Linked DNA regions of Homo sapiens: regions 1 and 3 are each linked to region 2. The links come from fine-mapping of genetic effects on gene expression. A gene starts in region 2. Each other region holds a variant in brackets. All regions are shown on one strand. Distances are between the middles of the regions. Region 1 overlaps PIEZO1 (piezo type mechanosensitive ion channel component 1 (Er blood group)). Region 2 holds the start of PIEZO1 (piezo type mechanosensitive ion channel component 1 (Er blood group)). Region 3 overlaps PIEZO1 (piezo type mechanosensitive ion channel component 1 (Er blood group)).

Region 1 (5,000 bases), 29 kb after region 2:
GCTTCCCAGGTGACGAAGCTTCAACCCATGGGCTCTCCTTCCTGGGTGTGGAAGCCCTGGAGAAGGTGGAGATGGGATCTCAGTCCAGCCCATTGGCTCCACTTCCTTTGAGAAGCTCTTTCCCCCGTCTTGGCCCCCAGCCCTTGTTCAAGCACCTGTCCCTCTCCTGTCTCCTAGGCCCCGTCAGTCCTTTTGGAGACCTGTTCCCACCCGCCCCTGCTCTCACAGGCTGCCAGTGTCCACACACTCTCAGGCACTGTCATTGGAGCCTTTTAACCACACGGGAAAGCAGGCAGGTTAGGTAACTACCCCCCACCCCCCCGCCAGCAACGCCCCCTGCATACCCAGGGCCTGCACCAGGTGCTGCTGCGCTGCCAGCTCTCTCGAGGTCCCTCCTCCTAACCTCAATGCATCGCGTCTTCCAGCCCCCGGCTCCGAGGGCTCAGCCTCCAGGTGGTCTAACCTGGAGTCTAAACCTGGATTGCCATCTGCCTGCCTCAGCCCTTCCCTTCCCCAGGGACCGAGGGCCAGTGCGGCTCCCCAGCCACCCATTTTTTGTTTGTTTTGAGACGGAGTCTCGCTCTGTCGCCCAGGCTGGAGTGCAGTGTCCTGATCTCGGCTCACTGCAAGCTCCATCTCCTGGGTTCACGCCATTCTCCTGCCTCAGCCCCCCAAGTAGCTGGGACTACAGGTGCCCGCCACCACACCCGGCTACTTTTTTGTATTTTTAGTAGAGACAGGGTTTCACCATGTTGGCCAGGATGGTCTCGATCTCCTGACCTTCTGATCTGCCCGCCTCGGCCTCCCAAAGTGCTGGGATTACAGGCATGAGCCACTGCACCTGGCTTGTTTGTTTTTATTTTTATTGTTTTTTGAGACGGAATCTTGCTCTATTGCCCAGGCTGGAGTGCAGTGACATAATCTCAGCTCACTGCAACCTCCACCTCCCAGGTTCAAGCGATTCTCTTGCCTCAGCCTCCCAAGTAGCTGGGACTACAGGCACCCACCACCACACCCAGATACATTTTGTATTTTTAGTAGAGATGGGGTTTCACCATGTTGGCCAGGCTGGTTTCGAACTCCTGACCATGAGATGGCGGGCTTGAGCCATCTTCCCGCCTCGGCCTCCCAAAGTGCTGGGATTACAGGCGTGAGCCACGGTGCCCGGCCCCAGCCACCAGTTTTGTACAGCACTCAGGTGGGTGTGGTTCCTGAGGACATGTCACACGAGATCCTTCCGGTCCATTAGCCCACCCCGCCCCATCAGTGGCCAGTGCGGCCATTGTGGGGTCCAGAGTCCCGAGGCAGAACGACTGACTCCAGGTTGTGGAGGGGCCTCTTAGGATCCTTCTAGGCACCCAGGTTGGGCAGGTGCCTCCATGCCTAAGACTGAGCTCCTGGTGGACATCGGGCTGGGTGTGGGCGTCCTGCACACCCTCCCTGTGGCCTGGTGCCCGTGAGGAGTGGACAGTCACCCCGAGAGCATAGACCACCCTCGAGGCTCCCAGATGGCGGCCGCAGAGCCCCACTTCCCTGCCTGGTGTGTGATACCTTCCATGGCTGAGGACACCTCTGACTGCTCACTCCTGTGACCCTGGACCCAAGTGCTGGGCCACACCTGGACTCCAGGCCCCAGTCCTTCCTTCTTCTGCTGTCCTGGCTCCTGGGTGGCCCCCGCCCTCCCCGCTCCGAGGCTCTGCCCTGTGCTGGGAACCCAGGAATTGCCACCCCCTGGCCCCGGTTTCTCATGTCAGGATCTGCTGGCCAGGTTGACTCCTGAGCGCCACTGTCTCCTCAGACTTGCTGGTCCCACCCGGTCCCCACCTGTCCACCGCCCGAGGCTCTCCTGTGAGGCCGCTCTGCAGCTCTTGGCCTGGGGGCCCCCGGCCTCTCATGGTGCCTTCTGCACTGTCCCCTTTGGAGATGGGAGCTTTGAGGGTAGGCGCCACCGTTCGGTGAAAAGGCGGTATAAGCAAAGCAACCCCCAGATACTGAAGGAGCCGGGAAATAAAAGGAGGCAGACAGAGCAAGTGTGTTGGTACCCGCCTATTTACTGGCAGGAACTTACAGACGGAAACATGGCCTCAGGCAGCCTCCAGGCAGGTAGAGCTCTGAACCCAAACGCCCGATCTGGGGCTCGTATCGTGCCCTGGGAGGAATGTGCAGGTGGCTGGGAACGTGGCGGGTGGGGTGGCCAGATTCCTGCTGCAGCACCGGGTTTGTTTAGGAAGAAACGTACGAGGACTAGACACTCTTTTTTTTCTTTCCTGCACGTGAATGCCAGGGAGTAGGTGCTCCTGCAGGAAGATGATGCATCAACCAGCCAGTCTGGAGGCATTCC[G/C]AGACCCGGGGTTAATCAGCAGATTAGCATTTAAATAAAGTTACTCTGTCCCCACAGCCAGCTAGGCCCGAGCCACATGGCGGGGGCGGCGGGGGCGGCTGTTCGCCGCATCCCAGGCTTGCTCCATCTCCTCGTCTGCAATGTGGAGGTGACAGTCGTGGTCCTCGGCTAGTGCCACAGGACTGTACGGGACAGATCACCCAGCCCCGTGCCTGCACTGGGGGCGGCGGTGACGTGATGGCCGCGGCGGTGACCTGATGGCCGCAGGTGTGTCCACCCTCTGGTTAGGCCTCTCCTCTCCCTGGGGCGCAACAGGTGTCCTCGGGTGGGAGGTTCAGCTGCTGGGCCTGGGGCCCCAGCTTTCAGCTCCTGTGCAGGCGTGGAGCGGGACGGCACGCCGGGGCGTTCGTTCACACGATGCCCCCAGCTCGTCTCTGCCTGCTCTGTGATGCAGCCTCAGCTCCTGTGGGTCCCGGGTCACCCACCCGTGTGGGCCGCAGTCTTTCTGCACCACGTCCTGCTCTCGGCCAGCGCTGGCCTGCGGGCCCCGGCAGTGTGGGGTCACACACAGGCCGCACCGGCTGTTTCACGGAGCCCCCCTGCTCAAAATCCTGGCCTTGGGTCTCTGTGTGGCTCCTGGAGGGAGCATGTATGAGGTGTCCAGGTTGTGAAAGCCCCATCCGGCAGCCCTCCCTGTGACAGTCCTTCAGGCCTCGTCAGGCTTGGTTCAGCCCGTGTTAGAGGAGGCCAGACAGCTCCTCCTCGATCACCACAGGGAACGAGGGTTGGGCAGTTTCTCCTCTCCCACCCGGGCGTGGGTCAGCTGCAAGGGTCTCATCCCAGGAACTGGATCCTGGCAGGGGGGCTCAGGCATCTGACATCCCCTGGCAGGTCTTCCTATGTGCCAGTGGGAGTGGGTGGTGTCCAGCCCTCTTTGTGGAATGTTCCGGTTGAGTGGTGTGTGGTCCTGGTTACCACCATGTGGCATTTGTGGCTTTCCTGGCCAGCACCCACTGAAAGCAGAGGCCAGCCCAGCCCTTGGACACCCAGGGGCCCAGCAGCTACCGTGGGGGCAGCCTCTCCCCTCCTGACTGTGCTCCTCTCAGCTGTAGGATGAAGGTCTGTGGATGGGTGATGGCTGGGCTCTCTGCTTCCCAAGGAGCTGGATGTGGGCCATAGTCAGGCGTGTGCTGGTGAGGCGAGGGGGTTGGGGGTTGGGAACCACAGCTCTCTCTGACCCCATCCCATTGCAGCTGACTCAGGAAAAGGCATTACCCCCACGGGGTCACAGGCCCAGCCTGGGCAGCTCCTGATGGGAACATGGGAGCCACAGGGCAGGGCAGGCTCCTGTCCCCGCTCCTTGGATTGTCTCAGGCCCCGCCTCCCCTTTGGCTGAATTTCTTCCTTCTCTGCCTGAGCCTGATCTGCGAAGCTTCCGACCTGCCCTGAGTTGGAGCCAGTCTTCAGGGCCAAAAGCAATGCCGTCTCCTCCAGGCAGCCTGCTCTGAAGTCTCCCCCTCTGGCTTTAGCCCACAAAGTCACAGCTGAGGCCACATCAACACACTTAGACCAAGAGCACTGCCGGCTGCATAGACAGCACAGGTAGATCCAAGGAGTGTTTCGAAAAGCCGTGGCCCTGCGGCCGGGATGCCCGGACCTGGGTCCTGACCACTCTTGGGAGCTCCTCCCCTCTCAGAGCCCATCCCATCTGAAAATGGGGGCATTGGAGCATTGGAGGAGTGCTCCTCACTCCTGCCCTGCTAGCCGGCTACTCCGAGGACCCCAAGACCAGATGATGGGAGAAGTGGTGGGCTGGGCTGTGACCCTGAGCCCCCTTCTCATCCCACCCGTGAGGCTGCCCCTGCTTGGTGTCTGTGGCAAGGCTGACAGAAGATGGCGCCAGGGACCAGCCAGGGCCCTCCTGTCTCAGCCCGTCCTTGGGTGAGTGGGTGTGCTCTGGGGGTGGCAGGTGTGCTCCGGGGGCGGGAGGTGTGCTGCGGGGGGCCGGGTACGCTCTGGGGGGGCGGGTGAGCTCTGGGGGGCTGGGTGCGCTCTGGGGGGGCTGGTGTGCTCTGGGGATGGACAGGTGTGCTCTGGGGGGCGGGGTGTGCTCTGGGGATGGATAGGTGTGCTCTGGGGGGGCGGTTGTGCTCTGGGGGGGCAGGGGTGCTCCGGGGGTGAGTGTGCTCTGGGGGGCGGTGGGTGTGCTCTGGGGGCGGTGGGTGGGCTTTGGGCTAAGTAGCCCTCTTCCTCTCTGAGCCTTTTCCTTGTCTGTGTTGTTGGTGAGTGGCCGCCACCTGGGACAAGCCTTAGCTGTCTGTCCAACTGTCCACCATGTCCCCGGACCCTAGACCAAGCCCGCTGCCTGGTGGGGCCTGCTTGGTATTGAATGAATGAATGAATGGATGAATGGATGAATGGATGAATGAATGAGTGAACAAACTCTGGGGGGCGTGTTGCTGATCACCCCAGGGCAGGCCCGTGGTGGGTCATGGTCTCAGGCAGGGGACTTGCCCTGCCGGGTGACGTTGGCCTGCCGGGGAACCCCTGCCAAGGTGCCTCCCATGCCCCCATCGTCCTCTGCCTTTGAGTCCACTCTGCCCCTCAAGGTTCCCCTCTGGCTCGGCCAGGGGCAGGGCGGTCAGGGAGGCCTCCAGCT
Region 2 (5,000 bases):
TCTGTTGCCCAGGCTGGAGTGCAGTGGGGTGATCTCGGCTCACTGCAAGCTCCGCCTCCCGGGTTCACGCCATTCTCCTGCCTCAGCCTTCCGAGTAGCTGGGACTACAGGCGCCCGCCACCGCGCCCGGCTAATTTTTTGTATTTTTAGTAGAGATGGGGTTTCACCGTGTTAGCCAGGATGGTCTCCATCTGCTGACCTCGTGATCCACCCGCCTCGGCCTCCAAAAGTGCTGGGATTACAGGCGTGAGCCACCGCACCCGGCCTATATCAGCCTTTAAACACTAGACTTCCCATGAAAATCTCCATTTCTGGGTGGTTTTTTTTTTTTTAATGGAGTTTCGTTCTTGTCACTCAGGCTGGAGTGCAATGGCATGATCTCGGCTCACGGCAACCTCTGCCTCCCAGGTTCAAGCGATTTTCCTGCCTCGGCCTCCTGAGTAGTTGGGAATACAGGCGCCTGCCATCACGCCCGGCTAATTTTTGTATATTTATTTATTTATTTATTTATTTATTTATTTATTTATTGAGACGGAGTCTGGCTCTGTCGCCCAGGCTGGAGTGCAGTGGCGCTATCTCGGCTCACTGCAAGCTCCGCCTCCTGGGTTGATGCCATTCTCCTGCCTCAGCCTCCCGAGTAGTTGGGACTACAGGAGCCCGCCACCACGCCCGGCTAATTTTTTATGTTTTTAGTAGAGATGGGTTTTCACCGTGTTAGCCAGGATGGTCTCGATCTCCTGACCTGGTGATCCACCCGCCTCGGCCTCCCAAAGTGCTGGGATTACAGGCGTGAGCCACCGCGCCCGGCCTAATTTTTGTATTTTTAGTAGAGACGGGGTTTCACCATGTTGGCCAGGCTGGTCTCGAACTCCTGACGTCAAGTGATCCCCCGACCCCCTACCCCCTTGCCTCAGCCCCGCAAAGTGCTGGGATTACAGGCCTGAGCCACTGCCCCGCCATCTTTTTTTTTTTTTTTTTTTTTTGAGCTGGAGGGTGTGGGCTTGTGCTGGGCTCTCATGAGTTGCCAGTGCCTTGAGGCTCAGTGGCCACAGTCCCCCCAGCCCCACTCCCTGCCTTACGCAGCTGAGTTTGAGAGCCATGAACTGAGCCCAATTAAACGGTGTAGAGCCCTTTGCCCTCTTTCTGTGCCCATCTCAAGGGCAGACGAAGGCCAAACTGACGTGGCCTGGGTGAGGGTCCCGAACACCCTGGACTCAGACCCTACCTCTCCGTGGCAGGGCGCCGCGGCAGCAGGTGCACAGGCCGTGGCTCTCACTCTCACCGTCTCACGCCAGAGCGACCCGGGCAAAGCCGCGCGCGGTGGCCGGCGTGGCTGGGAGCAGCCCCCGAGCCCCCGTCAGACCAACGCGGATCGCGGCACTGCTGCGACCCGAGCATCCCGCGTGCTCCCTCCGGGACCACTAGGCCCGGCCGCCGCGGGAACTCCGAGCCTCCCCACGGTCCCCAGGGGGCGCTGCGTGCTCGCGCCTCGGGGAGCAAAGCGAAAGTCGCTCGGGCACGCGGGGTGCAGTTGCGCGTGGGGCGCTGCCTGGGGGAGCCAGAGGCCCCGGGACCCCTTATGTAGCGCCCGGGCCCCAGCCGCAGCCCACCCAGCGAGAAGCGCCCCTGCCCACCGCCGCGCACGCTCGGAGCCGCGGGGCCAAGACTGCGGGAGGGGAGGGGTCCGCTCCGGGCCAGCGCCAGTCGGGGGTCTCCAGGCCCCAACGCACCAGGGCGGGCCGGAGGCGGGACGGGCCGCGCGGGACAGCGGAGGGGGTGCCTGGGCGCGCCGGGCCGTCGGGGAAGCGCGGAGGCGGGCACGCCGGGGAGGGCGGGAGGGGGCCGAGCTTATAAAGGCCCGCGGGCGGAGGAGGGCGGGAGCCGCCGTCCGGCCCAGCTCGGCCCCAGTGAGCCGAGCGCTGCGCTCCGCCGAGGGGCAGGGCGGTCGCCTGAGCGAGCGCGGGCCCGGGACGTCGGCACCGGCGGGGCGGCCGAAGGAGAAGGAGGAAGAGGAGAAGGCGGCGCGCGGGTCCCCGCGGGTCAGCCATGGCGCGCCGGCCCCGGGGCCCCCGCACCGCCCCATAGCGCCGCGGCGTCCGCTCGGTCTGGGCCGGGCCCTGGGCCCTCCAGCCATGGAGCCGCACGTGCTCGGCGCGGTCCTGTACTGGCTGCTGCTGCCCTGCGCGCTGCTGGCTGGTGAGTGGGGGGCGGGCGCCTGGGGGCGACGGGAGGGGGCTGCGTCTCGGCTCCCCACGGCCTGGACACCGGACGACGCCGGCCGGGGCGAGGGCTGCGGGCGAGCGGGCGCGGAAATTCCCAGGGACGCGCGACCCGGGCGCCCGCATTCCTGAAGCATGAGCGCGCCAGGCGGCGGCGGGGCTCCTGTCCCAGGGCCGGGCTGGAAGGGCGGCGGCGGCTGGGGGAGACGGCACCGCGTGCCCACGGGGGCGGTCGAGCGAGCGCCGGGCATAGCGCGGCTGGCGTCTCCGCCGGGGCGCTGCGGAGAGGAGGCCGCCGGGCGAGGCGGTGTTTGCCCCGGTGGGAAGGGCCGCGGCGGTGGTGGGGGGAGCACGAATCTCTTTTTCTCTTTCGGGTTTAAAAAAAAAAGCGCAAAGTTGCATCAGGACTTCCTGACAATCTGGGAGAAGGCGGGCTTCCTGCCTGGAGCTGTTTAATTTGGAGCTTCCCGAGCCCAACGAACGTCCGTGCCCAGGGCCCAGCCCCGCTCACCGCTGCACCCCCCTCTGCCGGACTGAGGCGGTCCCACACTTTGGAAAAAAATAGTGTGGGTTCCTCCCTGGTCCTCCCTTGCCCTACTGGGCTCAGTTTCGCAGGGGCGGGGGCCGGCCTCTGCCCTGGTCTGGGGGAGGGGACACCCCCGGAGGCTGTGGCCTGGTGTCAGGGCGGGGCAGGGGTCCCCAGTCCTGGCATCTGTGTTCCCTGCTTGCCGGGCAGTGGTGCCCCTTTCGCGAAGCACACCCGGGTGGCTTGGTGCTGCACGGCCTGGCACCCCTACCCTTCCCCGACCCTGGCCTAGCCGGGACCCAGGGTCCGCGCCCTCCGCCCGGGGGCTCCCCACGTGTGATTGATCTGGGAAGCAGTCGGATGGAATTAACCCACGGACAAGTGGGACGGTTTGCATTGGGAGTCCGCCATGGACACGGCAGGTGGGGCCTTTTGATTGTAAAAGCCCTTTCGGAGCCCTTGCCTCGCTCCAGGTGGGAGCTCGCCCAGCGCTAGCTTTGGGGATCTAGAGCCGCCTGCCTGAGGCTCCCAGACAGACTGCGTTTTGATCGGTCGCACAGAAAGGTGGTGAAACTTGGGGAAGATTTTCTAGACAGGAATCAATGAAAACCATTGAGGCTGGAGAGGAGAGGTTTTGAGCAACTCTCTTCAGTGCGGTCAGCCCTGTGTGGACTGGGCAGCCTGGGACCTGCTCCCAGTGCAGGGTCAGATGGGCCGTAAACAGGGCCCGGCTGTGTTCCTTCCTGTGCCTTGAAAACAAGCAGGACAGCCTGGCACAGAGGCAGAGTCTAGAGCTGACAGGCCTTAGAGAGGGAAACAGGAAAGCTTCTGAAACGTCCCGTTCACACTGATCGTTCCATTTCCTCTTGTGTCTGAGTGGGAGCGGGTGTCCTCCCTGCAGGGAATGCCCCCCCTCTCAGATGGCAGCTGCTCCTTGGGCAGAGTTGGCAATGTTTTTCTTTAAATGACCAGATGGTAAATATTTTCATGTCACAAAATCTTCTTCTTCTGGTATTTTTCCAGCCATTAAATGTAAAAGCCCTCCTGAGTTCATGGGCTGTACCTAAACAGGTGTTGAGCCCGATTCTGTGGCACATGTGGTTTGCTGCCCCCTGGGCATTGGTCAGGGGGCCTGGGTTCTGCCTTCTCGATTGCTATCCGCGTGGGGGATCTGGGGGAGGGATCACTGTTCTTCTTGCTTTTGGCCTCCTTGGGGAGGATGGGGAGGTAGCCCAGGGGTGCTCACCCAGGCCCCGTGTCAGTCTTCTATGAAACTTTTAAAGAATAGTGATGACTGACTGTCTGTCTGTATGGTACTTTCCTTAAACCTAAAACTGGTCCCAAATAAAGTCTCTTAATTTGAAAGATGCTGAAGCCCGGGCCATACCCCACACTGATTCTGTGTCTGGGGATGGGGCGTGGGGCCTGGGCCTCACTCAGTGTTTTCTCTCAGTCACCTGGGGGAGATGGAAGTGGAGCCGGCCAAGAACCCTGCCTGCCTGCCTGCTGGCCGGGACTCCTGAGTCAGGCTCTCTGGCCCTGGGGTGTGGGCAGCTCCAGATGGACCCGCGATGTGCAGGTTCAGCTGGCCTGGCCGGAGGTGGGACACTGGCTTTGCTGTCTTTGGAGTGCCCCCTCCCTCTCTGGCGAGCTTTGGCTGGAAGCAGTTCTACCGTGTTTTGGAAATGAATGAGGCCTTCAGAAGGCATTAGTCAGTGTGTGCCTGCGCTGGCTCAGACAGTGCCTGGTGAGGGTTTGAGTCATCCTGGGGTGCCCCTGGCCCCCACGCCCTCCCTCTCCAGTGCAGGATCATTACCCAAAAATCTGGCAGGGAGCTGCCCCACCCACAGGGAGCAGGGGCCTCCTTCAGCAGTCTCACCTAATGTTGCTGGAGCCTTGGGGGATCAGGGCCCATCTCTTCTAGAGAGATGTCAGGGCAGGGCTGGGCGCGATGGCTCACACCTGTAATCCCAGAGCTTCGGGAGGCCAAGGTGGGAGGATTGCTTGAGCGTAGCCATTCGAGAGCAGCCTGGGCAACGTAGAGATCCCCATCTCTATGAAAAATATTTAAAAATTAGCTGGGCATGGTGGTAGTGCACCTGTAGTCCCAGCTACTCAGGAGGCCAAGGTGGGATGATTGTTTGAGTCCAGGAGTTGGAGGCTACAGTGAGCCATGATTGTATGACTGCACTCCAGCCTGGGTGACAGACCCTGTCTCAAAAAAGAAAAAGGAAAAAAAAGGGCAGGACATTTGT
Region 3 (5,000 bases), 39 kb after region 2:
CCTGTCCATGGCTACGAGGTGTCCACCGGGCTGCGTTTTTCCAGGGGACTCTGGGGAGGATCTGCTTCCTCTTCCAGCTGCTCCAGGTGCCTACCTTCCTGGGCTTGGGGCCCCTCCCTCCATCTCCAGAGCCGGTGGGGTGGGGTCAGGATCACACCCTGTCTCTCCTGCTCCCTCTCCCCTGCGGTAACCCTGTGGCTTCGTCCCATCTGCCTCCCCGGCTAATCCAGGCCGACTTCCCTGGTTTAAGGTCAGCTGTTGGGCAGCCCCCATTTCCTCTGCTGCCTGGACTCGCCTCTGCATGTGAGCTTCTGCGTTCACAGATTCTGGGGACTGGGGTGCAGGCATCATTGGGGTCCATCGTTCTGCCAGCTGCAGGTGGAAGGTCGCTCTCCGGCCTCGCGACATCTGGCTGGAAGCATCCCAGAGGCTCCTCCTAGCTCGTGGTGCTGTGGGGTGGGCAATGGTCTTTTTTATTTATTTTTTTTGAGATGGAGTCTCACTCTGTCACCCAGGCTGGAGTGCAATGGCACGATCTGGGCTCACTGCAACCTCCGCCTCGCGGGTTCAAGCGATTCTCCCGCCTCGGCCTCCCGAGTAGCTGGGATTACAGGCGCCCACCATCATGCCTGGCTAATTTTTGTGTTTTTGTAGAGACAGGGGTTTTACCATGTTGGCCAGGCTGGTCTTGAACTCCTGACCTCAGGTGATCTGCCCACCTCGGCCGAGACTACAGGCATGAGCTACCGTGCTTGGCTTTTTTTTTTTTTTTCGAGTGGGGGTCTTGCTTGGTTGCCCAGGCTGGAGAGCAGTGGCATGATCATGGCTCACTGCAGCCTCCACCTCCTGGGCTCAAGCGATCCTCCTGCCTTAGCCTACCAAAGTGCTGAGATTACAGGTGTGAGTCACTGTGCCCAGCGCAGGCACTGATCTTGGATCATGGGTAGAATTCAGGGGTGCAGAGAGGCATTTTGGGAGGGGCCCAGTGCGGCCGAGTGCTGGGAGTCGCTGGGGCCCGAGGCCCAAACCCCTCCAGGATGCATGGCTGGGGTGGGTGGGCACCCCCACTCCCGGTCCCTATCCTGGGCCTCCCCTTTGCTCTGTGGAGCCGGTTCTGTCTGTTCCCAGGCCCCTGGCGTTTCGCCGTTTGTTCCGTAAATATTTCATGCCCAGGGCGCAATTGGAAACACTTTCCTTTAATCAGCAGTGGGGGAAGGCAGGCGCCCAGCCAGGCCAGGGGAGGAGCTGGGGTGGGAAGATTTGGAGAGGACCCGGGAGGACTTCCCTGCCTGAGCCTCGTCAGAGGCCCTTCAGAGACGGAGATGCTGCCCAGTTTTCCGGGAGGGAGAGAGGAAAGTGTGAGGCTTGCCCGAGCCGAGTGCCCGGGGCTTTATGATTTGTGCAGCTGCTGGGCTTGGCGTGGCCCTGGTGGAAGCTCTGACGCCATCTGAGCCTTGGTCCCCTTGTAGGCGTCAGCCTGATCCTTGGGGGGCTGGAGGTTGAGCTCAGACTGAACAGGGAGGAGAGGGGTAGGGGCTGGGGCTGGGGCAGAGGGAACAGACCCTGGTGCTCCAGGCAGGGCTGCAGGCAGAGCCACAGGGGGTGGCTCCCAGAGACCTGCTTGTCATTTAGGGACTCAGAAGCCCCATCCTGCCTTAGGATAAAACCCACCTCCAAGACTGACCCTGCTGTCTGGAGAGAGATCACCCCCCACCTCTTACCATGCCCCGTGCAGGGAGGCCCTGCCACCCTCTCCAGCTTCACTGGTCCCCCGGCTCTGCCAGCCTTGTGTAGTCTCCATCCTCTGTCTCAAAAGGCCCCTCTCGTGGCCCTACCCCGCAGCTCAGCCCTAGCTGTCGCTGGGTGGGCCTCATGGCTCAGCCTCAAGGCACCCTGGGTCCCTTGGCTGGTCCCATGCACACCCCATGGATCAGGTTCCAGGGGGCTCCCATGCACACCCCACGGATCAGACTCAGGGCAACTCCACACTCCCCACAGAACAATCAGGCCCAGCCCTTGTCCGGCAGGTGTGGGGATGGTGGCTATGGACCACGCATCAGGATGCTGCCGTGGTGGGGCCCCTCAGCCTTTGCAGGCCGTGCCGGGGTCCAAGGGCTCCGGCTCTGGGGGAGGTCCATGCTCTGTCAACCATCCGGTCTGCAATACCCTGGGGCCTCCCCGCCCCTTCCTGTTTCCTCCTGAGAGCCCTGCAAGCTGGAGGGGGAGCCCCGGCCCCTTTTTTTTTTTTTTTTTTTGAGACGGAGTCTTGTTCTGTTGCCCAGGCTGGAGTGCAGTGGCGCGATCTCAACTCACTGCAACCTCCGCCTCCTGGGTTTAAGTGAAAGTGATTCTCCTGCCTCAGCCTCCTGAGTAGCTGAGATTACAGGTGCCCATCACCACGCCTGGCTAATTTTTGTATTTTCAGTAGAAACAGGGTTTCACCATGTTGGCCAGGCTGGTCTCAAACTCCTGACCTGAGGTGATCCACCCACCTCGGCCTCCCAAAGGTGTGAACCACCACGCCAGGCCCCCTGCACCTTCTTCTGGGTGGGCAAGAGCCATGCTGAGCCCCTCCCCTGCCATGGATAGGGGTGGCAAGAATAGTCCATTCCCCATGGGCTCCCTCCGGCAGGCAGCGGATGGGTTGGGGCCCACACAGTGGTTCAGGAA[A/CAAA]GGCTGAAGGGCGGTTGCCGGCCAGAGCTGGGCGGGTCCCTGGCCTGAGCCTCCTCTCACTCCCTTTCCCAGGATGGAAAGGCCACTGTGAGCTGGGTGTGTCCTGCCAGGAGGGAGTTGGAGTCGGGGGCAGGAGACCCACTGGGTCTCCTGGGCTCCTGGAAGAGGCAGCAGTGGGTCCCTGCGGAGGTGGCCTGATCCCCGGCTCAGCCTGGTTTTCCCAGCTTTGCATTTGGGGGTGGGACCTGCAGGGGGAGAGTGACGGGGTGGGCGGGGACAGGGGCTGCAGGTGGAGGCACGAGAAAGCCACCCGACCCCTTGAGGTCATGCTGTTTGCGTCGGAGAAGAGGGCCGGTGTCAGGGTGCCCCCTCGGCCTCTGTGTGCACCTCCCCGCTCCCCGCCCCGTGCAGGTCAGCAGAGCCTCGATCCCTCTGCACGTTCCGGCCCCCTCCCATCTCCAGCAGCGTCTCTTCCCGGGGTGCCCCTCGGACTCTCAGCTCCCTAGTCTGATCCAGCCCAGGCAGGGAGCGGGCGTGCCACGTGGCCAGGAGTGGCCTCCAGGCCCAGCTGCGGCCCCTTCGACCCTGCGGAGGGATCATGGCCCAGCTGTTCTAACATGGCCAGACCAGGACACTCTGGCCGGCCCGAGAACTGAACCGGGAAGGAGGCAGGGAAAGGGGAGGGAGGAAGACAATGGGGAAGCAGTGACATCCGAGATGTAGCCAGAGACGGACATCCTGGACTGTCGTGCAGGGCAAGGCGGGTGGGCGGGAGCCAGGTGGCCTGAGAGCCCCTCCCTGCCCAGGGGTCTCTGGTCAGGCAGTTCCTTCCCGGGCTGCTGGATCGTGTGTGCAGGGAACCCGTCAGCCTGGCTGCCCAAGGGCCCAGATGTCCTCTCAGTGCCCGGGGGTCCTTGACAGCCCCAGCAGGAGCCCCACGTGCCTGTGGGGCAGGCCCCGCAGGTCCCTCTCTGTAGGACTCAGAATACCTTCTCCAATGCCACGTGCTCTCCCTGAGTGCCCAGTGCCACAGAGGGCCCCGCTGGCGAGGTTACTTCAACGTCAGGCTAGAGGGTGCAGCGAGCAGGACTCACAGCCCAGGTTCCCAGGCAGGTGTGGCAGGAGCCCATTCCCTGGGTCGGTGTTCTCATGTCACCCCACGGTGACCCTGCTGTACAGAGGCGGGGGCGCGGGGCCCCTGGCTGGTGCCCTCCTGCTGCCAGACTTGTGCTCTGCTGAAGAGGGGCTGGCGCGGCAGGTATGAGCCCGGCACGGAGGTCGTGAGCAGTGAGAAGCCTGGCACCTATGGGTTCGGGGCAGGGAGGCCCTGGAAGGTCCTGTCCTCCGGGAGCCCTGCACAGCACCCCCTGGTGGTGGCTCCTGTTCGTGTCGGGGCTGCAGCCTCCCTTCCTGGACGGTTTTCCATTCCTCCTTCCCACTCTCCCTGCTGCTCACCCCTCCCATCCTCCACAGGTCAGAGGTCATAGCTGCAGGGTCAGCAGGTCAGGGCCTGGGGCAACCCTAGGAAGGTGTGAGTGTGAGAAGCTGGTCCAAACCTGCCTCGGCTGCCTGGTGGTGCGGACAGGGAGTCCTGGGCATCCGTGAGGGCTGCTTCACGGTCAGGCTTAGGGATGTGCAGGGTGACTTGGACGTGGGTCATGAGTCTTTGCTCCAGAAAGAGGGGGCTGAGTGTCCAAGGCCAATCCCGAGTCTGTCACCTAACACCATTTGTGCTCAAAAAACTGAACAGAGTGGACACAGGCCCTGAGTTTGCGCCCCGAGGCCGAGAGAGGGCAGATGTGGTGGTGACATTCACCACCTTGGACCCAGACCCAGATGCTACCTGTCCCTGAGCTCCAGGAAGTTGTGAGAAGGGCCTGAGCTGTTCTGCACTTTCTCGTGGCCGGGCGTGGCTGGTGGTGCAGGAGTTGCTGCCCCAGGGTGAGGGCCCGGAAGCTCCTGCCAGCACGTGCCGGGGTGGAAAGGGAAGCTGTCCACAGCCCTGTCAGGACTCAGAACCCGGTGGGTCAAGGACTTTGGTCCGGACCCCTGCTGAAGGGTGAGCTGTCCACATGTGCGCCGAGAGCAGAGGTGAAGCCAGGGCTCCTGAGTGCCCCCAGCCACAGGGTGCGCCCGCCCAGCCCCTGCCCTGCAGCCGAAGGCCTCCCTGCTGGGGGGCTGAGTCCAGTGGGGCCACAGGCAGCTGGGAGCAGGACAAGGCTGCCAGGCAACCAGATGGTGCTGCCGCTTCCTGCCAGGTGTGGGTGCACAGAGAGAGAGAGGATGCCGGTCTGGGGCCTGACCTGGTGCACAGCAGGTGCCTGAAATGC

The links. PIP is the estimated chance that this variant, and not a neighbour inherited with it, causes the effect.
Region 1: its variant is fine-mapped to the expression of PIEZO1 in esophagus mucosa (GTEx, PIP above 0.99). The same link has a PIP of 0.9 or more in sun-exposed skin.
Region 3: its variant is fine-mapped to the expression of PIEZO1 in left ventricle (GTEx, PIP 0.95).

The regions. Positions count from the first base shown.
Region 1 is chr16:88,752,642-88,757,641 of GRCh38, reverse strand. All of the region lies in intron 1 of PIEZO1 (piezo type mechanosensitive ion channel component 1 (Er blood group)), which reads left to right. Among named protein-coding and RNA genes, the nearest start is that of PIEZO1-AS1, 12 kb to the right of the region's middle. The variant G/C (reference allele first, on the strand shown) is at 2,342.
Region 2 is chr16:88,782,097-88,787,096 of GRCh38, reverse strand. It overlaps PIEZO1 (piezo type mechanosensitive ion channel component 1 (Er blood group)), which reads left to right and starts at 1,877. Exons shown (of 51, transcript NM_001142864.4): 1 at 1,877-2,196. The coding sequence starts at 2,133. RefSeq lists silencers at 1,379-1,708, 1,749-2,228, 2,729-3,048 and an enhancer at 1,733-2,646.
Region 3 is chr16:88,743,004-88,748,003 of GRCh38, reverse strand. All of the region lies in intron 2 of PIEZO1 (piezo type mechanosensitive ion channel component 1 (Er blood group)), which reads left to right. It overlaps PIEZO1-AS1 (PIEZO1 antisense RNA 1), which reads right to left. Exons shown (of 3, transcript NR_120387.1): 1 at 4,514-5,000; 2 at 3,660-4,412; 3 at 2,256-2,915. Among named protein-coding and RNA genes, the nearest start is that of PIEZO1-AS1, 2.7 kb to the right of the region's middle. RefSeq lists a silencer at 2,377-2,436 and an enhancer at 3,454-4,140. The variant A/CAAA (reference allele first, on the strand shown) is at 2,671.